Homo sapiens: one gene and its partners. The protein of the gene in region 1 interacts with the protein of each later gene in a biochemical or structural test. Each region holds a gene or a part of one and is shown on either strand. Other genes may lie near its edges.

The links.
Region 2: the proteins of BNIP3L (region 1) and NGFR form a complex in vitro, tested with the Homo sapiens proteins (one study listed by BioGRID).
Region 3: the proteins of BNIP3L (region 1) and FBXL4 form a complex in vitro, tested with the Homo sapiens proteins (one study listed by BioGRID).

What each region holds. Positions count from the first base shown.
Region 1 is NC_000008.11:26,385,117-26,393,628, reverse strand, and holds part of BNIP3L (BCL2/adenovirus E1B 19 kDa protein-interacting protein 3-like), read right to left. Parts: intron 3,217-8,512; exon of another isoform or gene 3,112-3,216; intron 2,387-3,111; coding exon 2,203-2,386; intron 1-2,202.
Region 2 is NC_000017.11:49,498,293-49,505,292, reverse strand, and holds part of NGFR (tumor necrosis factor receptor superfamily member 16 precursor), read right to left. Parts: intron 3,231-7,000; coding exon 3,089-3,230; intron 1-3,088. UniProt on the Homo sapiens protein: Low affinity receptor which can bind to NGF, BDNF, NTF3, and NTF4. Forms a heterodimeric receptor with SORCS2 that binds the precursor forms of NGF, BDNF and NTF3 with high affinity, and has much lower affinity for mature NGF and BDNF.
Region 3 is NC_000006.12:98,944,133-98,953,041, forward strand, and holds the start of FBXL4 (F-box/LRR-repeat protein 4), read right to left. Parts: upstream 3,815-8,909; 5' UTR 3,674-3,814; intron 3,471-3,673; exon of another isoform or gene 1-3,470. UniProt on the Homo sapiens protein: Substrate-recognition component of the mitochondria-localized SCF-FBXL4 ubiquitin E3 ligase complex that plays a role in the restriction of mitophagy by controlling the degradation of BNIP3 and NIX mitophagy receptors.

The DNA of each region.
Region 1 (8,512 bases):
TTGCTCTGCTTCTATATGCTTCTTCACACTGGTACCAACCTCTTCTCTAAACTGTTTACTCCTCCTAACAATTTGGAATGCATTAGAGCTTCACCCATGGCACATATTAGAATCGGCTGGGGAGCTTTTAAAATATTGTGACGTCTCTACCCTGCCCCTGTCAACCAAAATGAGAAGTTCTTGAGATGCAGTCCATGTGCTGCCATTTTTAAAAGCTTCTGGGTGAATCTAGTGTGCCGTCAAGGTGAAAACCCCTGTGACAGGGTGAAAGGCAAAGCAGAACACACTGGGGTTCCCAGCTAACAACCCCTGCGGCAACACAAATATTTCTATGGAATAATTTTTAAGTTGAAAATATACATAAATCAGCTCTAGGACTGATACCCAACAACCCTAAAACATTTCCCCCTACAAGAAACACTTTCCAATTACTTTTCACATATAGAGACGCATGGCAATTCAGATGATGTGAGTTTTGAAGACACTCCTCAATGGTAAAGCGTGTTAGTAGGCTATCCCAGAAGACTCGAGTTCTAGCCATTCTCTGAAAGATGACCACTAATCTAGGGCCTGGAGAGACATAAGATGAGGGGTACGAAAGTGTTCAAAAGCATTTGCCATGCCTCCTCATGGCAACCTAAACTTAAACATGATCATAGGAGGGTGAAGGCATATTCAGTCACACGTAAAACTGCACCATAAATGAAGTAAGATGAACAGACAGGTAAGCAGGTGACTGTTCTCTGCTCATTGACAGCACCATGTGAACAACAGGCTCATGGACACCATGGTATCAATGATCAAGGCCCACACACCTGAACGCAGAGTGAAAGCCTTGTTGACAGGCCATAACAAGCAGAAAACTTGAGAAACCCATCAGCAAGTTCCATAATATAAATATAAATCTTCATTCGGAAAGACAGACTAATGCTGTAGCTACTGGAATCAAGGGCAAGCTGTTCAGAAGAGAGCCATCTGCTCTGGTTCCGCTTATGACAAGAGCCATCCCAGGCTCTAAGAAGCACAGGGACAAGTCAGGGATGACACGGGGGTGGCGGGGGTGCACAGTGTGCCACAGAGCCAACAAACCAGTCCCCCGCTGCCTTGGCAACATTAGTGGATCATAAGCCACTCAGGAAGTTGGACATGATTTAACTCATTTCTCCTTTTTTTCACTTCTTCTGATAAGTAATAATATGTGCAATATACACAATTTTTACAAAATACAAAAATGTTAAGAAGAAACATATCCATACTGCATTCCTAAAAATAGTCACTGTTTACATTTCCTTAATCTGCTTCCCGTGCATTTGCATTTTCTAAATGGTTAACATCAGTTAACAACCACCCAGAAGGTCATCCAGTGCCCCATAATGCTAACAGTGTAGCTGTCACTGAAACAAGAATTTCTTAAATGTCATTTAATATCTAGCCCTTCTGAAAAAAAAAAAAAAAAACAGAAAAGTTTATACTAAAAAATAATGACCTGGTTTCATTCCACACACATATCTCGTTGTATTCTTACTCTTTCACCATAAGCAGTCCTTAATCCATGTAATTAGTTTCTTCAGCTCAAATATAGAAAAATGAGGTCTGAAACAAAACATCCCCTGAGAAAGCAGAGGAGACTTCAAAACTATCTTTACAGACCTTGGTTGGTGCTTCCAACTGTGCAAATATTGCTATAACGTGAAGCAACCTGCAGTTCCTATGAATCAAACATTTACTGAGTGTCTACTACGTGCCAGCACCATTACTGTGAAGGTAATAAAAATTAAACATGGCCCCTGCCCTTTGCAACGTCAACATCTAGAAGGGAAGACACATATATACAGAGGTAACTAATTCAAGAACAGTCTGTGATCTGTAACACAGGGACACAAAGGAAAATGGGGGAAAGTCAGATTAATTCTATAAATTAGCATTTATGCCACTGAATTTTAAACTGATAAACTGCTAGAAACAATATAATCTGGGTAAGAAAAATGACAATCTGGGGAAAAACAGTGGGCACTGAAGCACCTGTCAATTAGCTGTCTCATATAAACACAATATATATCTGTGCAATATATATTATACTACAATATATCAGGAGGCATATTTTGCTAAGTGAAGATTTAAGCAAACAGATTTTTCCTAGAGTGAATGAGCCCTGTAACCCACCTGTTTCCTGAATTCCACCAAAACATGGGTCTCACTTACCTGTCACAGTGAGAACTGCCTCTGGAACTACTCTGTCCTGATTCATGTTGTGCATCCAAAAGAATCTTCTCCATGTCTCCATTGTGGATGGAGGATGAGGATGGTACGTGTTCCAGCCCCCCATTTTTCCCATTGCCATTATCATTGCCATTGCTGCTGTTCATGGGTAGCTCCACCCAGGAACCTGTTGGACAAGTCAGATAAGTTAACCACAGCAGAACTGAAATCTGTCATGTGCACACAGATGTGAACATGGTGAATCCAGATAAGAATTCTGACTCTCCTCAAACCAAATGTAAAAGTATTCTGAAGAAAATAAATAAGAAGTAATAAAAGTCTAAAGATCTATATAGTTCTGTTCCTGAAATAGCTCATGCCATCAACTGAGAAACAGCTCAAACTCTAAAACATCTCAGAAAACGTGTTTTTCAGTCAATTTCTCTCTGGGTAAAGCTTGGTTTATAATAACACTCTACTGAAAACTCAGGTTGCTTTTCAAAAAAAAATTGCTACTTTTAGGCTATTTACCTTTAACATTTTAGTTGGTGTATATATACACACACACTTTCTTCATAGTCTACCTAAGCTGCTCAGCTGTATCTGCTCCAGAAATGAAATAAATATATCACCTACAAATTTCATAAAAGGTCATCTAAGTAAGTTAGCAACTATATCCTACTTAGTGCAAACAACTGAGAAACTCCTAGAGAGGGAACCTAAATCCAATAGCAAAAATTTCAATTTGTGCACAAATCAGGAGCATAAAATTAATGCAGCTGGTTAACTAAATCAGGTAATAATGCTAAAAATTCAGAAAAAAGCTTTATCTCTATCTCACTGATTAGTTTCTTCATTTCCTTTGTATCTCAGGCTTTCTAGTCCTTCTCCTTTTTTATACACTAAACATACCTTGTGAACTTGTCTTTTTTCTTTTCTCTCCCACGGGTTTCTACTTTCTAGGGTTTTCATTAAACCCTGTTGATTTGGGAGCAGAAACAACTGCACATCAGCTACAGGCAAACACGAAAAGTTTTCTTGGACAAAAAGTTGAAGGGGTGGAGCCACAGAAAAAGGGGATGTGCCACTGGTAATTCTGCATACATCTTGAAAATATTTATTGGTCTGATGAGTTTGCTAAACGTATTAAGGTGCTTTAATTTTAACAAGAGTTGAGGCCAGGTACAGTGGCTCACACATGTAATCCCAGCACTTTGGGAGGCTGAGGCACCAGGATTGCTTGAATCCAGGAGTTTGACACCAGCCTGGGGAACATGGCAAGACCCTGTCTCTACAAAAGAATAGTAAGTAAGTAAGTAAATAAATTGTTAACAGTAGCCAATAAACTTAACTTCACAGCAAAAAGAGATAGTGGTATATTTTGTTCATAATTTCCATTTCTTACAATAAATTTTGTTTTAGAAAATGTACCCAAGCAGCTTGGTGTGGCCATCCCTCTAAACTCCCAGCAGAAGTGTTAGAGAGTTCCAGGGATGAACAAGGAGTTCCATCAGTAAGTTGAAGTAAAATCATCAAAACTGGCTCAAACTCTAAAATGCACTCTAAATGTGGCGATGGCTACACCAGTTCCAGAGTGAACTGAACATCACCCTCACAAGAAGGAAAGCTCCAAGGCAGACCTAGCTGGGAATCTGACCCCATCACTTCCTGTCTACCTGTGTGACCTGAGCTTCAGCTTCCTCATTTGTAAACAGAGATAATAATAACACCGGGGTGCTGTGACGATTTAGTAGTATCAAGTGCTGGTAAATAGAAGATGCTCAGTTATACACTAGAATTTTCTTTTATAAATACTTAGAACCCTTTCCTTTCCATTTGAGGCAGCCCCAGTGGCTACCACCATCCCATAGTCACCACCAATTCCTTAGGACTCTGCTGCCAAACGACACAGTTGTACAACATCTCCATGGCCTCATTCTATACACACATAAAATGGACACAGGCTAGAGAACTCAAAATGGATTAACAAATACAACTAGCAAAGCTAAGAGAGATCTAACATTGAAGATAATTTATCTCGAGTGCCTCTGGAGTGTATAAGAAATACGCCAAAAGCATCCCTAAATTTAGAGCTCTGCAACATATTTCAACTGGAGAGAAAGGGGGTGGGGGAGAGAATATGTATATAAAAACAGTTTTTTTTTCTGACTCTCACTGTTTCTAGGATTTTCAAACTTATTTTTAAACCAATGGGACCAGTTCTTCTTGTATAGAAGCCTAATGTGTACAATAGTAACAAACCAAAACCCAGAGCTGCTCTGACAGAAGCAGAGGTAAGGAACCAGGAGTTCCAGATAGGTCTCTGTGGAAGTCAGTCTTCCCTAAAATACAATTAATATTCACTTGAAGTAGGCAATCGAAGAGAAAAAAGGGTGTAACAAACAATATCAGGTTTTCTGGTCCTTACTTTTGTTTTTCTTTTGAGACAGTCTTGCATTGTCACCCAGGCTGTAGTACAGTGGCACAATCACAGCTCACTGCGGCCTTGATTCCTGGGCCCAAGCAATCCTCCCACCTCAGCCTCCCAAGAAGCTGGGACTACAGGGCACATGCCACCATGCCCGACTTATTTATTTATTTATTTATTTATTTATTTATTTAGTAGAGACAGGGTCTCCCTACATTGCCCAGGTTGGTCTCAAACTCCTGGGCTTCAGCAATCCTCCCACCTCAGCCTCCCAAAGTGCTGGGCTTACAGGTATGAGCCACTGCTCCCAACCTGGTTTTTACTTTTTTGAAGGACTTTCAAATCAATGTCTGGATCCTATTTTCTTCATTAAAAACACATAAGCAATCATAATCCAATATATACTTTTGGAACCTGAAAGAGACATACCTAGAAAAGCTTAGTAAAAGTGATCTCTGCTGTGGCCTCCACACCCTGAATCATAACTGAAAGCATTTCTACTTAAGGCGGACAATTTGTACTTGGGATACACTGGTATAGTGTGGTCAGGGGCTGAGACTGAAGCCAGGCTCCCACTCTCAGTTATAGCTGTTACCCTCGCACAGGGTACTTAACCTCTTTGTGCCTCAGTTTTCTCATCTATAAAATAGAGATAATAACTGTATCTACCTCGAAGACTTTGTTAGGAGGATTAAATGAATATAGCACGCAGAACAATAAGAAAGGTCCCTAAGAAAGTTTTAGCTACTACAATTATATTCTATATCATAGAAAAACCATTCCTTACTGGAAAAATGTGTTCCTAGAAAACGTAAACATCAGTACATAAAATTAAAAATTAACATCTCTCCCAACCTCCCGTTCCTACTCCCAAAGGAGCCACTTTTGACAGTTTCACATGGAGACTTGCAGAGTTTTTGTCAATGAAATATAGGTCTGTTTTTGCTTTTGTTTTTATAAAGAAATGGAACTGTACCATACACACATACTGACATATTCTGTAAGTCGTTTTTCAGATGTCTTCCCTATCAATATATACTGACATTCATTCTTTTGAACAACTGCATTGCATCTCATCTTTTATAAAGATATACCATACTTTAACCATTATCTAAATGGCAATGGTTAACTACTACTGAGATGGTTGTTTCTAATACTTTGTTATTACAATTAGGGCTTCAGTGAACATTCTGGAGAATAATTTGACAATAGGTATTAACAGCCTTAAAAGTGTAGATTTCCTTTAATTAATTAAGGGTAATTCTCTTTCAAAAATATCATCTATGGAAATACATAGTGGTACAGAGAAAGTTATGTACACAGGCATTAAGAGGCTACATATTAATCTTTTGAGTAACACATAAAAAAGCAAATGTGTCTTCCTCAATAGATGAACAACACGTCTGTTTCCCATCACCCGATTTGTTCCTGATTTACAGCCTCAGAATTTCTTAGTGTTCTAACTCTACCAATCCTCACAAAGTCCCTTTTTACTTGGAAAGGAAACAAGGCTAGATAAGAGGTTTGTGCTGTCCAAGCAACACAAAGTAGAAAACAACCACAGAGTGAATTCTCCTCCTAATGATCAAGCTTGAAAACTAAAAGCTGGAAGCTTTCTCCATTATCTAAAAGACTTTACAAACTAAGAGCTGTTCCTTATGCCAATTTGTACATAACATACAATGACATGAGATATTTTCTGGTTTGGGTTTTTGGGAATGACTAAGAGATTCAGAGAAACTTCTGTGAATGCTTCTCCGTTCTCTAACATAATAGACTGTGAAGGGTGGTCCAATAATTGTGATTATACTCATTGCCGTATGTTGTATAATCTTTACAGTTTTATAATCACTAGTTCAATCCTCTTGCAAGAAGAAGAAGAGAGGAGCTTTGGGACAAGGGGAGGAGAGAATGAAGAGTATTTCTCCTCATCTTTCCCCCTAACTTTTCAAGGCCCACATGTAACTCTTTTGAAATTTCATTATATTTACATTCTTTCCTCAAAGCTTTTCATTCATTATTGAAAGGAATCCAGACCAGGCCAACCTGATGCTGAAATCCAGACCAGGCCAACAAGAGTTACTGGCATTCTTCTTAAATAAAAAAATAAATAAATAAATTTTTGAAAAGTTGGTCTTTTTGCAGCAGTATGTATTTACATACAAGTTACGTAGGTATTCAAAACATTATTATGAGGCAGTGACAATCCATGAAGGCCTTAAGAGCACTCTTCATAACAAGAAAGCAAGGACATTGTGCTTGAAGATGTTTCTATTTAAAAAAAAGAGTTTGTGACCAGCTTGGGCAACAAAGCAAAACTCCATCTCTACAAAAAATAAGTTAGCCGGTGACCAGCCTGGGTGACAAAGTGAAACTCGAACTCTACAAGAAATAAAATAATTAGCTGGATGTGGGGGTGCACACCTGCAGTCCTAGCTACTTGGGAGGCTGAGGCAGGAGGATCACTTGAGCCCAGGAGGTCTAAGCTGCCATGAGCTATGACTGTACCACTGCACTCCAGTTTGGGTGACAAAGCAAGACCCTGTCTCAACAAAACAAAAAACAAAAAAGAACAAGAAAATTTGAAAAGAAAAAAAAGGCTATACTTCTCAACAACAAGAATTATACTACGATTTACACTACTACTTTGATTTTCCTTATTCGGCCCTATTGAATCTTATTCAAACATTCTTAAGGAAGTTGATAGTTTTCTTAACAATAAAACAAACTGGACAACATCCTTTTGACTTGGAAGGAGTTTGGGTATTTGCCCTGTAATTTTTAATGAAAGTGAACAGTCTCTCCACAGCGGTAAAGTTAAAAAAAAATCACAAAAATACTTCACTATTCAAATACTTCAGTAATTTGCTATTGAAACCCTGCTTTGACCCCTGAACCAAAGATAAAATCCCAAACGCAAGATAATCTGTACATTTCTTCTCCTGTTTTTCAGTTGTGCAACTTTACCCAACAAAGTCCTTCGACTTATCAGCAATTTGGATAGTACTAGATGCCTGAATAAGTTGTTTTGCCCATTGCCCAAAAATCACTTCAAGGAATTCAATGAGGCTTCTTGTTTTGTTCAGTACAGTGTTGTGTAATGAGCTAAAAAAACGAACAGAGTGAGAGGCAAGAAGGGAGTAATTAAATATGGCAATATCTAAAAGCTTTTCAGAAAGCTCACCCTATCCCACACAAAATACTTTCTATCTAGCAGATGTCCCAAAGCAACATTTTGATGTCCCATGCAGGCTGAGTGTACTTCCACCTCTGTAAGAGCTGATGTCAGCCAAGCAGGAACCGACTGGCCAAAGACATCAAACTCCTCATAGGTCTGTCAGACACCAAGATAAACAATGACATATGGCTCAGCCCCCGCCCTCGCCCCTTTTTTTTTTTGAGACAGAGTCTTGCTCTGTCACCCAGGCTGGAGTGCAGTGGCGTGATCTCGGCTCACTGCAACCTCTGCCTCCCGGATTCAAGCGATTCTCCTGCCTCAGCCGCCTGAATAGCTGGGATTACAGGCGCCCAACACCAAGCCAGGCTAATTTTTGTATTTTCAGTAGAGAGGGGGTTGTTCTCTCACCATGTTGGCCAGGCTGGTCTCGAACTCCTGACCTCAAGTGATCCACTCGCTTTGGCCTCCCAAAGTGCTAGGATGACAGGTGTGAGCCATCGTGCCCTGCCTGGCTCAGCCCTTTTTGTTGTTGTTGTTAAAGGGTCAAAGGAAGATGAAAATCCCTTTGCTTTCAGTGAAATCACGTACACCTACCAAGTATCTTCACTCATAAGAAAACTGTACAATTAAGAAACAATACTAAAAAGAAACAGAAAGGTTGGCCACCTTTGTCAATTAGGTAGAATAACACACTGACAAAATAAGAC
Region 2 (7,000 bases), on another chromosome or scaffold:
AACCAGGGAAGGACAGATTGTTCAGAATGTGGAAGCAGAAGCAGAAAGGCTAAAGCGCCATTAGGGGGAAACTGAGGCCTGTAGGGGGGTCTCAACATTATTCAAAGGCATCAGAGACAAGATGGAGCAAGGGGTCACTGGCTTCGGGGGTGTGGTGGGGGGATGAGGAGGCAAAGAAGGAAAAGCCAGAGAGAAGTGAAAGGGGCAGAACTGGGGACAAAGGCTGGGCGTGGTGGCTCACTCCTGTAATCCCAGCACTTTGGGAGGCCAAGGCGAGCAGATCACTTGAGGCCAGGAGTTCAAGACCAGCCTGGCCAACATGGCAAAACCCCATCTCTATAAAAAATACAAAAATTAGCTGGGTGTAGTGGTGCACGTCTGTAATCCCAGCTACTCGGGAAGCTGAGGTGGGAGGATTGCTTGAGCATGGGAGGCAGAGGTTACAGTGAGCCAAGACTGCACCAGTGCACTCCAGCCTGGGTGACAGAGTGAGACGCTGTCAAAAAAAAAAAAAAAAAAAAAAGAAAGAAAGAAAGAAAAAGGGTAGAGGAGAGAAGAAAAGACCCAGGAAGAAGGGCCTGGAGGGAGACTTCAGTTTCAAGTGAATTCTGACAGAGGAACCCTGTGTCCCTTTTCCTAGGAGCAGGCAGATCTGGATTCAAAATCCATTTCCATCGCTTATAAGCTGTGTGACTTTGGGTGTTTTACTTAACCTCTCTGAGCTTTTTCTTTCTCTGTAAAAATAAGGAGCAATATCTGCAGTCACAGGGTTGTAGTGAGGAATAAATGAAATTCAGCCATAAAGCTTTGGCACGTAGTTGGGATCCTATAAAGATTGGGCCCCATGGGGGTGGAGAGCGATGAGGACATTGAACTTTGGAGGTAGGAATATGGTCAGACAGCAGAAAGAACGTCCAAACACAAACAGCAAAGGCAGGATGTCTGAGCTATACAAACAAGAGGGTCCTGGCTGGCTGGCGTGTGATGGAGGGTAAGTCTAGTCACACAGGAGGGGAAGAGGAGAAGCCTGCTCATGGCAAAACACAGAAAATTAGCAGAAAACTCCTGGGAGAGGGTTTTAGGTGGTGTGAAAAATGTGGTCTTTTTTGGCAGAGAATGAAGGCAGGGGCTTAATAGGTTTCCTTGTGGAAACGTTTTAAGGGTAGAGGGAAAGTCCGCTGGGGTCTCCGTCCCATAAAGTGGGCTTGTAAAGGCAGCCTGTTAATGCAGCTGGAGGTGGAGGAGGGGGAGACAGGGAAGGAGGGGAAAATGGAGGGGAGGGAGGAAGTGGAAGGGAGGATTCTCAAAGCCACCTCTCTGCCTGCCTCCCTTCCCTTCCAGAGATTCTGGAACTTCCCTCTCCTGGTGTCCTCCGCCCCACCTCCTGCTGAAGGTCCTTTGACTGAAGGGAAAGGGTTCCCATCATTTAGGTCCTGGGAGGAGAGTCCTGGGCTGGAGTCTAGGAAGCAAGAGAGGCAGATTTGGAGGTTCTGGGATAGCTGATGGTTGGCCACCCCCGCCCTGGAATGGAAACCCTGTTAGGCCAGGGCCAGAGCAGGTGGCCATGAAGCAAGACGGCAAAGGCATTGGAGGATGTCCCACCTCCACACATACGCCCAGGCATTTCTTGGCTGGGGAATGGTGTTACAGGATCCACAAGCACAGAGATGGGAAAACAGTGTGTCTGGGGAACACCAAGAGTTGGGGTTGCCTGGAGGACAGATAGACTCAGGGGGGACATCCAGAGGTAACACTAGGTCCGCAGGTGGGTTCAGAGGCCCCAGCTCTATCCCCTTATTCCCAGCCGGATTAAAGAATAATCTGAGTATGGTTCCCTCGAGCCCTCCAGGTGGGCATCGAGTGCCAGGTAGAAGGCAGGGAGTCAGGAAAAGGGCAGGGAGCCCACGGCCCAAAGGCAGCAACTGAGGACTGGGGGCACCGATCAGGGACCGAGACTCCTGACTCAAAAGCATGAGGGAATTCAGACCCTGGACAAGACTGGGGCCAAGGGGCCCAGACCCACCAGCCCAGGAAGATGAGATTCTCTCCCCTCCTGAAAGAAATCCCAGGCAGGGTCGAGCACGGTGGCTCACGCCTCTAATCCCAACACTTTGGGAGGCTAAGGCAGGTGGATCACTTGAGGCCAGAAGTTTGAGACCAGCCTGGTCCACATGGTAAAACCCCATCTCTACTACAAATACAAGAATTAGCCAGGCATGGTGGCATGCATGCACCCGTAGTCCCAGCTACTCAGGAGGCTGAGGCATGAGAATCACTTGAAACCAGGAGGTGGAGGTTGCAGTGAGTTGAGATCATGCCATTGCACTCCCAACCTGGGCAACAGAGCAAAACTCTGTTGAAGGAAGGAAGGAAGGAAGGAAAGGAAAGAAAGGAAAGAAAGGTAAAGAAAGAGAGAGAGAGAAAGGAAGGAAGGAAGGAAGGAAGGAAGGAAGGAAGGAAGGAAGGAAGGAAGGAAGAAATCCCAGGCAGGAATGGGCACAGCTCCCCGTCTCCCCTCCCCTCTGTCACCCCACAGTAAGGACGTCTTCATGGCGCTCTGACCCCCATCCCTGCTGCCTCGGGAAAACTCTGCTTCCTGGTCAAAGCTGGAGAAGAGTTGGCCTGTAGGGAGGAACAGCCACACCCCCAGGATCCCCCAAGGTCAGCCTTCAGGGCAGCCAGGATTTGATCCTCCTCTCCCTTCCCCCAAACACACCGGGGATAAGTGGCAGCCATTGATTTTGCAGTGCAGATGATATTTTTAGCTGGTCTTAGCATCAGCTACTCCTCCCTGCCCAGCCACACTCTTCTACCAAGCCTCTGCCTTCTCCAGAGCTGGGAATGGGCACCCCTTGGAGATCCCCCATGGGGTTCCCCTCCTCCCTCTGCACACTTCCCTTCTCCATTCTCAGCTTCTCGAATCTGGGAGAAGCGCCTCCTACACTGGGTCAGACCCACTTCTGATGACCTTACAGTGGTGGTCTTATAAGGCCTCTACTGGGCATGCTTCTCCCCAGCGCCCCTCCCTTTCACCCCTCTCCTCCCTCCCATTCTTCTCCCCTCCTCCTGCCCGCCACCCTCTACTCACTGTCCAGGCAGGGCTCACACACGGTCTGGTTGGCTCCACAAGGCTGGGCCACACCCTCGCCCAGGTTGCAGGCTTTGCAGCACTCACCGCTGTGTGTGTACAGGCCTGTGGGGCATGCCTCCTTGGCACCTCCAAGGGACACCTGGATGGAGGGAGATCGGAGGGTCAGACTGGCAAGAGAAAGCTGGGGTGGGTTGGGGGGGGTTCTTCCGGGGAATCAAACACCCTCCTCCCACTGCCTTCTATTAGAACCACCTGGGCTGGGATGAGCTCACCAGGGAGGCGTTAGGAACATCAAAGCTGACAGGGGAAAGGCAAGTGAGGGACAGTGTGCCCGTGCAGGCTGCTGGGGGTGTGAGGTCAGAGCTTCAGCTGCTGACCTTCTGCAAAGTTCATCCTGGGGTTACAGCAACTCCTGGAATCCCAAGGATATACCACATGGGGAAGGTGGCCAGAGGCCCAGCGGAGGGCCTACCAACAGGGATGTCATGAATGGTTGGACAGGTTGTAGCTTGCACAGGGCTCCCAGCCAACGGGGCAAGTAGAGCTGAAACCTATCCCAAACTCCATTTGCTAAGCTTTGCACCTGCTGGGTTGTATCTACCCAGAGGAGGGCCTTTTTCTAACAAAGGCCAGCAGGGCCTTACTCCAGGTCCTTAATTCCACATATTAAATAATAAATGGAAGATGTCCATGCCCAAGAGCAGAAAGGAGAGGGCCAGGGTCTTGGGTTTGAATCCTGACTCTACACTGGGGGTCTTGCTTGCCCATCTTCCCTCTGAGTCTTCATTTCTCTACAGAGATGGCAACAGCCTGGTGCCAGGGCAAAAGGCCAGCCATTTGGCAAAAGCCTCGCACCAAGATGGAGAGAAAGGGAGAACTGTTATCAATGATGGGACAGTGGCTGCTCTCACCACCCAGCAGCCCTGCCCTGCCACGGTTTGATTTCCAGCCACCAGTCCTCCCCCTCCCCCATGTGGCCACTGGGAACAGGGCTGGAACCAAGGGAAAGGGGAGTCAGGTTCCTGCCACTGAAGCATCTTTGCTCGTGGATGTAACAATTTAACACCAGATTCCCCAGGGGAAGGGGCTGGTGGAGGCTTGCTTTATATTTCTGTTCCTTTAAAAAAAACTTAATGTCTAATAAAACTCCAAAGCCTGCTTTGCTAGCTCCAGACCATGCAGCCCTCATTTGATGCTGAGAAGTATGGGCTTTGGGGTCGTGGGACCAGAGGGAAGCTTTACAAGCTTGTTTTGGGCATTCTGCTTCTTCTACATTGGCCAGATCATGGCCAAGACACTCCTTTCCCTCCAGCCTTTTAAAATATCCTGCGGCCTCATCAGGGTTTGGTGGGGAAGGAAACAGAGGAGTCAGGGGGATAGACAGGTTGGATCAACCCAGGAGGGAGTCTGTGGTCCTCATGAGACCAGCAGGACAGGCACAGGCAACAGAGGAGGTGGAACCTTGGTGTTGCCGCACCTCCTCCAGGGCAGCAACACACTCAGTGCTGGGAACATCTGCAGACCAGGAGCCTCAGGGTCCCAGATGCAGGCTTTCCCTCAAGAGGCAAGATTCCAGAAGGGCCTGTTCTGATTTCTTTTCATCCTTTAGGGCTCTGCTTAAATGTCACTTCCTCAAGGAAGTGGTCCTGTTGCACCCACCGCTCACAGATTAGGTGGGGCTGCCATGTTACGCATCCAGCCTGTTCTCCGGTTCTCTCTGCTTTTGTCTGGCCTGAACTTTATAGACTCCCTCATTGGACTGTCAGCTCCCTGAGGGAGCTGGATTGCCCCAGGGCCTGATGCGGTATCTGGCATGCAGTAGGGACACAATGCATACACGCGTGGAGTTGAAATACATGAAAATACTGTATGACCTCAATTAACCAGAACTCTGGGAGAGCGACTGTTGGTTAGCCGAGATTCCAGACTGCCAGGCTTTGCTGCCCTCATCATTTTTGCTTTTCACCATGGTGGCTGCACCCTTCCCTGTCTCTGGAGCAAAGCTTCATGGCTTCCCATGACTCAGGGACTCTGTATTTACACCAGCGATTACTCTGGGCTGCAATACAGGGAAACTCTTTTGTTCTTTTCCCAAATTACCACACTTTTGTCTTTTTGAGTTCTCCTGTCAGCCTTTTTTTTTTTTTTAATATAGCTTTTCTGTTTCCTCCCTTCCTGTCAAGGTATCAGTTGTCACTTCTTGCTGCTACCAGAGTGTGACCTGAAGCAACCCTTCCCCCACCACGCTAATCTATTTAAGGTCTAATTGAATCTTCAGAAACTGTGGAACTCGCCTTGGTAGAAAGGCATGTGCCGGCCGGGCGTGGTGGCTTACGCCTGTAATCCCAGCACTTTGGGAGGCCGAGGCAGGCAGATCACGAGGTCAGGAGATCGAGACCATCCTGCCTAACATGGTGAAACCCCATCTCTACTAAAAATACAAAATATTAGCCAGGCGTGGTGGCGGGCGCCTGTAGTCTCAGCTACTCAGGAGGCTGAGGCAGGAGAATCGCTTGAACCCAGGAGGCAGAGGTTGCAGTGAGTCGAGATCGTGCCACTGCACTCCAGCCTGGGTGGCAGAGTGACAGTCCGTCTCAAAATAAATAAATAAATAAATAAAATAAAAATAATAAAAAATATAAAGGTATGTAAATAGGATCTGAACCAGGAGGAGGCAAGCCTCTGAATACAATCTGTGAGCTCTCACGCCACTCTGAATCCTGGCTCCACACTTGTCCTGGGTCATAATTAGGTAATGATGACAGTACCTGCATCATAGGATTGCTGTAAGTATTACACAAGTAAATAAGGTATTTATGTACTTTGGGACCCCTCTTTTCTGTCCTCCAGGGTCTACTTTGTGGCCATTGGCTGTGTTCCAGTTTGTTGGGCTCTGGACAGCTGAGGAGATCTGTCTACAGTGGTCTTGGGTGGTGTGGGGGCTTTGTGCAAATGCCCCTGCCAAGAAACCTGTTCTCCCTGCTGCAGCCTGAGGTCCTCTCTCTTCTCTTAAAAACTGCATTTGGAGTAGGGGCCAGATAATTAGTAACCATGCATTTCCTGTCCTTGTTTTATGTTCCCTATGTTGTAAAATCCTAGATCTGCTTCTTAATAGTATGTTGCTTAGGGTAAATTACTTAATTTCCCTAAACCTCAGTTTTTCTCACCTAAAACATTGGGTTGATAATGTCTATTGCCCAGGATTGCTGGGAGAATTAAGTGAAATAATTTATGCAAATATGTCTGGTCTACAGTAGGAATTTAATAAATGTTAGTTATCAAAGAAGCATCTCATCTTAAGGAGACCCCAGGCAGGAGGGGAGAGTTTAGCCAAGTAGGGAGGGGTGACTAACATTCAGGCTAATTGCTCCAAAATCAGATCCAAAAGGATTAATTTATAGGGATGACAGATAAATTTCCCTGAAATTTGTATGTGTTACACTTAGTCATTTCACATTTGACAGAATGATTTCATCTCATTTTTAAGAACGCTTGTAATCTTTTTGTTTTGGCCATTTCAAGGCTTACAAGGAACTAAGGTGGAAGGATCCTTAGATGAATTGACTTTTAAGAATTTTCATTTTTTTTAATTAGAGAAAAGAGAGAAACAGCGAAACAGTTGAAAGTATTTGAAACCATACGAATGTTTCAGTATAATCAGCCCTGGCCATTCCAACAGCTTCAGCAAAGAGCTCTTAAGTGAATGGGGCCGTGGTCACCGCCATGGGATGGGAGAGATTTTCAAACACCTGGAGGGCCTTTTGAGGTCGATGCAAACCCAGGGGAGGCACTGGCACATACCCCTCACTCCCTTTGGATAGGGGAGGAGTTGGGAGGAAAGGAGCTAATTACCCAAGATAATGTAGCATAGAGACTTGAGAGGGGGCAGGGCCTCTGCGTGTGGAGAAG
Region 3 (8,909 bases), on another chromosome or scaffold:
AAATCTATATCTATGATAACAGAATGTGTACAAAGAGTATTTTAATAATCTTCCGGTGGAAACCCAGAGGCCGTAAAGGAAAACAACAGCAGAACTGGCAACATAAATATTAAAGATTTTTATAAAGCAAAAGCCCCAAGAAACACTAAAGAATAGACTATGAGAAAATACTAGCAAATGGTGAACCAAATCATTAATAGCCACAATATGTAAAGAGCTATTACAAATCAATTAGAAAAGAGGAACATTTCAACAGAAACCTAAGCAAGGGATATGATCATGCAAGTAAAAACGAATACAAATGACCAACAAACATACAGATAGTCAACCTCATCAATAAGCAAAGAAATGCAATACTAAAACAATAAAATAGCATTTTTCATCCATAAAATTACTAAATATAAAAAATAATCATTTCATCTTAGCAGGCCTCTCAAGTTTCTGCATATCATATAAGTAGAGGCACTGACGGCCTTTATTTTTTATCTTTTCAGTGGTGTTTATATAGCAAATAGCCTTGGCAGATAAAGAGATGTCTCCCTCTGGTACAGAGGGCAGGTTTGTTTACCATGTGGGAAAATAAAGATAATGTCTCCCTCTCTGGCAAAGATCAGACAGCTTTATTTGCAGCCCACTATGAAAGATTCAGGTTCCCTAAACTAAGGACTCCTCTCCTGTAACATAACCTACTTCATCTGCTAGTGTCACTGGGCTCTTATCACATCACCCTGTGGAAATCAGGGTTCCAGCAAATCAGCATAAGATGATCCTCTGGCTACCGTTCCTGTTGTGCTTTGTCTCTGAGTCAGGAGTCTCATATTTTCTGCCAGTTTCCATGAAACTGTTAGCTTGCAAGTAGGGTATGATCTCAGATCCTTGACAATTCTTGGCAATGTGATATGGCAAAAGCAATATTTTAACAAATTGTATAAATTTACTCTTACCAACAACTTTTGAGGAGCACTTTGGCAGAATCTCTCATAATTTAACACTTATGTGTAGCCTCTGACCTAGCAATTCCATATCTTAGGAAATGAACTAACATGCAAACATGACAGTATACAGAATAAACACAAAAATGATCCTTGCAGTTCTGTTTGTAATAAATTTGGAATAATGCCAACAGGGGACTGGCTAAATAACTTTTGGGTTATTCCTACAATGAAATACCAAAAGACTTACAAAAAAGACAAGATACTATTATATGCACTGACACAGAAGGATGTTTATCAATTATTATTAAGTGGAAGCTATAGAAAATTATAGATGGTACACTGCCATTTATGAAACAAAAGTAGACTTAAATATATTTATTTTTAAAATCTGCAAGCAGTGATCATCTTTATGGAACAAGGTTACTGGGTAGGTGGGCACACAGCACTTTCACTTCCTCCTTTAAGGATTTCTGTATTGCTTGATCTTTTTTAAAGAATGCATACATTTATTTCATGGGCTAATAAAGTTTTAAGTGTCCAGTGTAAAATTTATTATATTTTAGATATCCAGTTGTGATGGTAAAATACAAATGGATATGAGGATATCTTCCTCATATCCCAGGGAACACTTCTACAGCCATTTATCTCTTAGATAACCATTTTTCTCTTAGAAACCAGGTACAGAACATCCTAAATCACAGGTGATGGGGAGAGACACACTACAGTTACTATGACACGGTGCAAAGTCAAAAGGCATGCAGATTTTTAATCAGGCTGCTTCTCTATGTAACTGTAAGGAGCAACTCTAGTCGCAAGTTCTGAATGAGCAACAGAAGGGATTTATTTACTAACAGTTAATGATTCAACTGACCATGGAAAAAGCAAGCTAAAATAAATGAATCTCAATAACTGGCAGGAAAATTTTAAAGGGGGGAGGGAGGCAAGAGGTAAAGAAAGGGAATCAACTTGCCCCCACTAAATGTGTTCATTTCAAAAATATTTAGTGATGTCTACAATATGCCAGGCATCGTTCAAATCCCTAGATATTAAAACACATTATAAACCTAGAGCAATAAGAGCATCACAGAAGCCAGGATCACCACAGGGAGCCAAAGAATACTAGACCGTTCAGAAAGTCCCAAGAATACACGGGAATTTAGGGCCTATGGTATTTATAGGACTGATCAGCAGGGAAAAATAGAATTCCAACAAATGATGATGGAGTCACTAACAAAATTATAAAGTTAGAGCCTTCTTATCTCACATTAAATATAAATAAGATCATTAACAATACTAGAAGAAAACGGAGGTGGATATTTATATACAATTCATGTAGATAAAGGCCTTTTTTAAAGGACACTGTGTTAGATCCGCGAAGTTAAGATCGAGAATGTTAACCGCAGCAACATTAAGAGGATGAGACTAACACAGTAAAGAAAGAAGGGGCAGTTTTTGTTAACTGACCATATGTGCAAGTACCATATGTACCATTGTACAGAGTACTATAATCGCATTATTTCATCACGGCGTGAGTAAAGAAATTATCCATCTTACAATGAGTTGACTTATCTGATTTTCAAATAACAGAAGGGAAGAGTTTGAAAATGCAGAGTTCAGAAAAGCCAACTTTTGGCGCAGAAGTTTAAAACAAAGTTAGTACTCAGAACATAAGTATGGAAAGAAGAATCCAATTCAAGGAACTTTTAGAGTGCCTACTAAAGCATAATGCACATTTCCCTCAAGTCCTTAATCTGATAAAGGACTATTGGAGCGCTGATGACTCTGGATGAATCTCTCTCTACTCAACCAACAGATACAATATGCGGTACAGGATAATGGAGGCAGGAAGTGAGCCTGAAAGAAAAAAATATATACCTATAGCTGAACTTAAGAAACCAAGGAGTGCACGCAAGAACCAGAAAAGGCAGCTTGTGTCTGTGAACAGACCAAAGCAAGCAGAGATCCCTGCACCTGGTGGTAATGTGCCCTCCGGAGCACAAAGCCAGACGGGCATCCTGCCAACGCAACTACCTGACCACAGGCTTATACCATCTTCACCTTCTATAATAGTTATTTGTATACTGTATTTCAATCTGTGAATGCATCTCGAAGGTTTGTGGCAATGATTACTGGGAAATCAAGGAAATCCAAAACCACCCGTTATAAATATGTCGACAAGGAGGCCAAGTAGATGGTCATCATCACACTCTAGGGGCACCCCTAAACCTAAACACAGAAACAAGGTTGTAGCTGGGCACCCTGTAGCAGTCCTGAAGAAAGAAAACAGGCCTGGTTAGGCAAAAACCATCGGATGTCAGAGGGAAATCAAGGCAGCAGGCACAGGAATCACAAGCACAGGCGGGCATGTGGCCGACGCGTGGCTGCCGGCGCAGCACTGAGCGCGGGTGTGGGGCGACCCGCAGTCCCCCGCGGTGTAAACAACCCTGAGCCGCGCACACGTCCGAACGACGCCTCACAGCCTGCAGGCAGACTGTAGCGTAGAAAGAGCCCGAGGCACGTCAGCAGTTCTCAAGGGCCCCAGCAAGCCCCGCAAGCGTGAAGCGGAGGCGCGGGGGCGCGGGGCCGCGGGCGGGGAGGGGCGGGCAGCGGGGGCCTCTGCCAGGCGTCCAGACTCCCCAAAGCGCGGAGCTGCGCGCTGGCTCGGCCCCGGCCCCGCCCCGGCGCCAAAGGAAGAAGACAGAGACCCACGGGAGGGAGAAGTAAAGGAAGGGCCGTACCCTGCAGGGTCCGGGAGAGGCGCGCGCCGCGGGCTTCACCAGCGACCAGGCAGCGCGAGAAGGCCTGGGTGCGGGGGCGGCTCCCCGACTCTCTAGATGCGGCACAACCGCCGCAAGCCCGGCCTAGCGCGACCCGGAAGGAAGACGCGGAGGCCGCGAGGAGCGGCGGGCCCGGGGAGGCGGGGCGGAGCCGGGGAGGAGGGGCGGGGCCGCGGGGTTGGGGCGGGGCCGGGGAGGCGGGGCGGGGCCTGGAGGGAGGCGGGGCGGGGCCAGAAGCAAAGCCGGGCGTTTCTCCCATGGGAGGTGCTCTGGGTCCTACGGACAGCCCGCTCCCAGGCCAGGGGGAGGAGCTTTCTGCTGGCTTCCTAGCTCCAGTGGTGCCCGTGTAAAGGGCCTAGGTCATACACAGCGGGTAGTGTCTACAAATCCTCTTCGGAATAATCCCTTCCGAGTACCGGCTCGCCATGTGTAGTGTGGTCCTACAAGGACTTCTTCAGTCCAGACTTGGTGGATCAGATGATACATAGGTAATACGGCTGGTACGCATACGTAGAGGAAAAGTATAATATACATTATATGCACTCTGAAGGTATAATTCACCTAGTTTACAAACCTCCTCTTCCCTGCATACAAATCCTGCCTGCAGGCTCATTTCCATACCAACGTTCAGAAGCCTCTGACCATTACCTCTGATGAAGAAGATGGTCTGGCAGCCTCTCTTACTCATTTTGATTTATTTTTGGTAGATTCAGTATGGCACTTTATTTATTTATTTATGTATTTTTTGAGACGGAGTCTCGCTCTGTCGCCAGGCTGGAGTGCAGTGGCGCGATCTCGGCTCACTGCAACCTCCACCTCCCAGGTTCAAGCGATTCTCCTGCCTCAGCCTCCCGAGTAGCTGGGACTACAAGGGCGCCAAGCTAATATTTTGTATTTTTAGTAGAGACGGGGTTTCACCATATTGGCTAGGATGGTCTTGATCTCCTGACCTTGTGATCCACCTGCCTCAGCCTCCTAAAGTGCTGGGATTACAGCCGTGAGCCACCGCGCCCGCCCTTGGCACTTTTTTTAGTTTGCATCATATTTATCTTGTTACAAAATATCCACTAAGATGGAAAATATTTAATAAAATGTTGAACTACACATTATTTGCTGTCTGAATGCTCCAATGAGGCAAACCAGTAAGGATATTTACTTATATATGAACAGAATCAATATATGATATGCAATATACATTGTATACAAAAAAATTAAAATTTTTATTTTCTTCAACTTTTTGATGCATAATAGCTGTACATATTTTCAGGGTATATGTGATAATTTGATTCATTTCTGTAATCAAATCAGCATAACTGGGTTACTCATCCCCTTAAATATTTATCTTTTCTTTGTGCTAGGAACATTCAAATTGTTCTCTTCTGGCTATTTTGACATGTACTATTGATAAATGTTAGCTGTAGTCACCCTACTGATCTATGGAACACCGGGTCTTATTTCTTCTAAGTGTATGTTTCTTCTAAGTGTATGTTTACCTCCCCTTGCTCCCCCATGGCCCACCCCCCCAATACTTCTCAGTCTCTGAGATCCACTTTCTGAACTCCCACATATGAGTGAGAACATGCATTATTTGCCTTTCTGTGCTTGGCTTATTTCACTCATCATAATGACCTCCAGTTCTATCCATGTTTGTTGCAAATAAAAGGATTTTGTGGAGGGTTTTATGGCTGAATAATATTCTATTGTGTATATGTACCCCATTTTCTTTATCCATTCATCTGTTGCGCGGACACTTAGGTCAATTCTAAATCTTGGCTATTGTAAATAGTGCTGCAATAAACATAGAAGTGCAGATATCTCTTTGATATATGTATTTCCTTTCTGTTGGATCTATACCCAATAGTAGAATTGCTGAATCATATAGTAGTTCTATTTTTAGTTTTTTGAAGAATCTTCAAACAGTTTTTCACAGTGGCTCTAGTAATATTCATTCCTGCCAACAGTGCACACGGGTTCCCCTTTCTCCACATTCTCACCAGTATCTTTTGTTCCTGGCTTTTTTTTTTTTTTTTTTTTTTTGATAAAAGCCATTCTCACTGGGGTGAGATATCTCATTGTTTTGATTTGCATTTATCTGATGATTAGTGATAAGGAGCATTTTTTCATATACCAGTTGGCCATTTGTATGTCTTCTTTTGAGAAATGCCTGTTCAGATCTTCTGCCCATTTTTTAATTGGATTATTTGTTTTTGTTTTTGTTTTTGTTTTTGCTTTCCTATTGAGTTGTTTGAGCTCCTTATATAAAATATTCTGGTTATTAATCCCTTGTTAAATAAATAGTTTGCAAATATTTTCTCCCATTCTGTGGGTTGTCTCTTCACTTGATTGTTTCCTTTGCTATGCAGAAGCTTTTAAGCTTGATGTTATCCCATTTGTCTATTTTCACTTTTGTTGCCTATGTGTTTCAGATCTTAACCAAAAAGATAAGATCTTGCCCAGACTTATGTCATGGAGACTTTTCCCTATGCTTTCTTCTAGAAGTTTCATAGTTTTGGGTCTTAAATTTAAGCCTTTAATCCATTTTGACTTGACTTTTCTATATGGTGAGAGATAAGGTTCTAATTTCATTTTTCTGCGTGTGGACATTAGTTTTTGCCAACACTGTTGAACAGACTGTCCTTTCTCCATTGTGTGTTCTTGGCACCTTTTGTAAAAAAAGCAATTGACCATAGATGTGTGGCTTTATTTCTGGCCTCTATATTCTGTTCCATTAGTTAATGTGTCTGTTTTTATGCCACTACCATGCTGTTTCGATTGCTATAGCTTTGTAATATATTTTGAAGTGACGTATTGTGATGACTTCAGCTTTATTCTTTTTGCTCAACATTGTTTTCTCTATCCAGGATTTTCTGTGGTTCCATACAAATTTTAGGATTTTTTTTTCTATTTCTGGGAAGAACATCATTGATATATTGTTAGAGACTGCATTGAATATGTAGATTGCTTTGGGTAGGTATGGACATTTTAACTATTCCTCCAATCCATAAACACAGAATATCTTTCCATTTTTTGCATCTTCTCTAATTTCTTTCATCAAGGTTTTATAGTTTGAGTGTACAGATCTTTCACCTCCTTGGTTAAATTTATTCCTAAGTATTTTATTTTATGGGTTGTTTTTGTAGTCATTGTAAGTGGAATTGTTTTCTTGATGTCTTTTTCAAATAGTGTGCTTTCTGTGTATAGAAATGCTACTGATTTTTGTATGTTGATTTTACATCCTGCAAACTTACTAAATTTATTATAACAGTTTTTTTTAGTAAAGTCTTTAGGTTTTTCTATATATATAAGGTCATATCATCTGCAAACAAGGACCGTTTAACTTCTATACAATTTAGATGCCTTATTTTTTTCTTACCTAACTGCTCTAGCTAGGATTGCCAGTACTATGTTGAATAGAAGTGAGAAAGCGGGCATCCTTGTCTTGTTCTGGTTCTTAGAGGAAAAGCATTCAACTTTTGTCTATTCAGTGTATTAGCTGTTGGGGACTTGTCATATATGGCCTTTATTGTACTGAAGTACATTCCTTTTATACCTAATTCATTGAGCTTTTATCAGAGAAAAATAACGAATTGTGTCAAATGTTTTTCTGTATCTATTGAAATGATCAATGTGGTTTTTGTCCTTCATTCTGTTAAAGTGATGTATCACATTTATTAATTTGCTTTATGTTGAATCATTCTTGCATGTCTGCTATGAATCCTTCTTGACCATCGTTAGTGATCTCTTTTGTTGAAGATTTTTGCATTTATATTCATCAGGGATACTGGCCTATAAGCTTTGTTTTTTTGTTGTGTCCTTGCCTGATTTTGCTATCAGGGTAATGCCTGCCCCATAGAATGACCTTGGCAGTATTTCCCCCTCTTCAGTTTTTTGGAAGAGTTTGAGAAGAATTGCAATTTGTTATTTAAATGTTTGGTAGAAGTAAAGCCATCATGTCCTGGGCTTTTCTTTAATAGGAGACCTTTTATACTAATTCAATCTGCCACTTGTTACTGATTTGTTCACATTTTCTATAGCTTCATGATTCAGTATTGGTAGGTTGTATGTGTCCAGAAATTTATCCATTTCTTCTGGGTTACCAAATTTGTTGGCATATCATTGTTCCTAATAGTTTCTTATGATCTTTATATTCCTCTGGTATCAGTTGTAATGTCTCCTTTTTTATCTCTGATTTTGTTTATTTGGGTCATTTCTCATTTTTTCTTAGTCTGGCTAATGGTTTGTCGATTTTACTTATCTTTTCAAAAAATCTAATATGATATTTTGAATGAAATCCTGGAACAGAAAAAGGACGTTAGTAGAAAAACTAGTGAAATTAGAATGAAGAGTAGAATTTATTTAATAATAACACACCAGTGCTGATTTCTTAGTTGTAATAAACATACTATTGTAACATGAGCTCTTAACAATAAGGGGAAACTAGATGAGTGATGTATGGAACTCTCTGTATTGTCATTGCAATTCTTCTGTAAATGTCAGTCTATTCACTGCAACTTTTCTGTAAATCTAAATCTATTGTAAAATTAAAACTGGATTAAAAAATAATATAATAAGTAAATAAGACTGATCTGTTTATGGTTGCTGGTGAGACTTCATTGATTTGATAAGCATCAACTCAATGCTCAAATTCAGTCTAACAGTGGTTTCTTAATCCTAGATAACTTCTAAATAAGTTTTTATTTAAGTATAAAGTATATTCAGAAAAGAATGCAAAAGATGAGTGTACATACCCTTGTATTCACCATTCAGACAAAAAAGTAGATAATCACCAGTACTCAGAAACCTCCCAGATTCTCTCCTAAATCTCTTCTCCTTACTCCTGCCCAAAGGTAACCTGAATTCTAACACCAGAGATTAATTTTCCTAAGTTTTGTCCTTTAGGTAGATGGGATCATACATTACACACTCTTTTGAGTCTGGCTTCTTTCTCACAACATTAGCTTTGTGAGGGTTATTCATGTTGTCAAGTGTAGTGATAGTTTCTTGAGTTTCTATTACATAAATATACCATAATTTATTTATCTATTCTACTCTTGATAGACATTGAGCTGTTTTTAGTTTTGATTATTGTAAGCAATGCTGCTATTAACATTCTTGTTCTTATCTTTTGGGTGCCTATCTGTTGCATTTCCCTCCATACATTTTCATCTCTTTAATGTTTAAGAGATGTGGAAGTTGG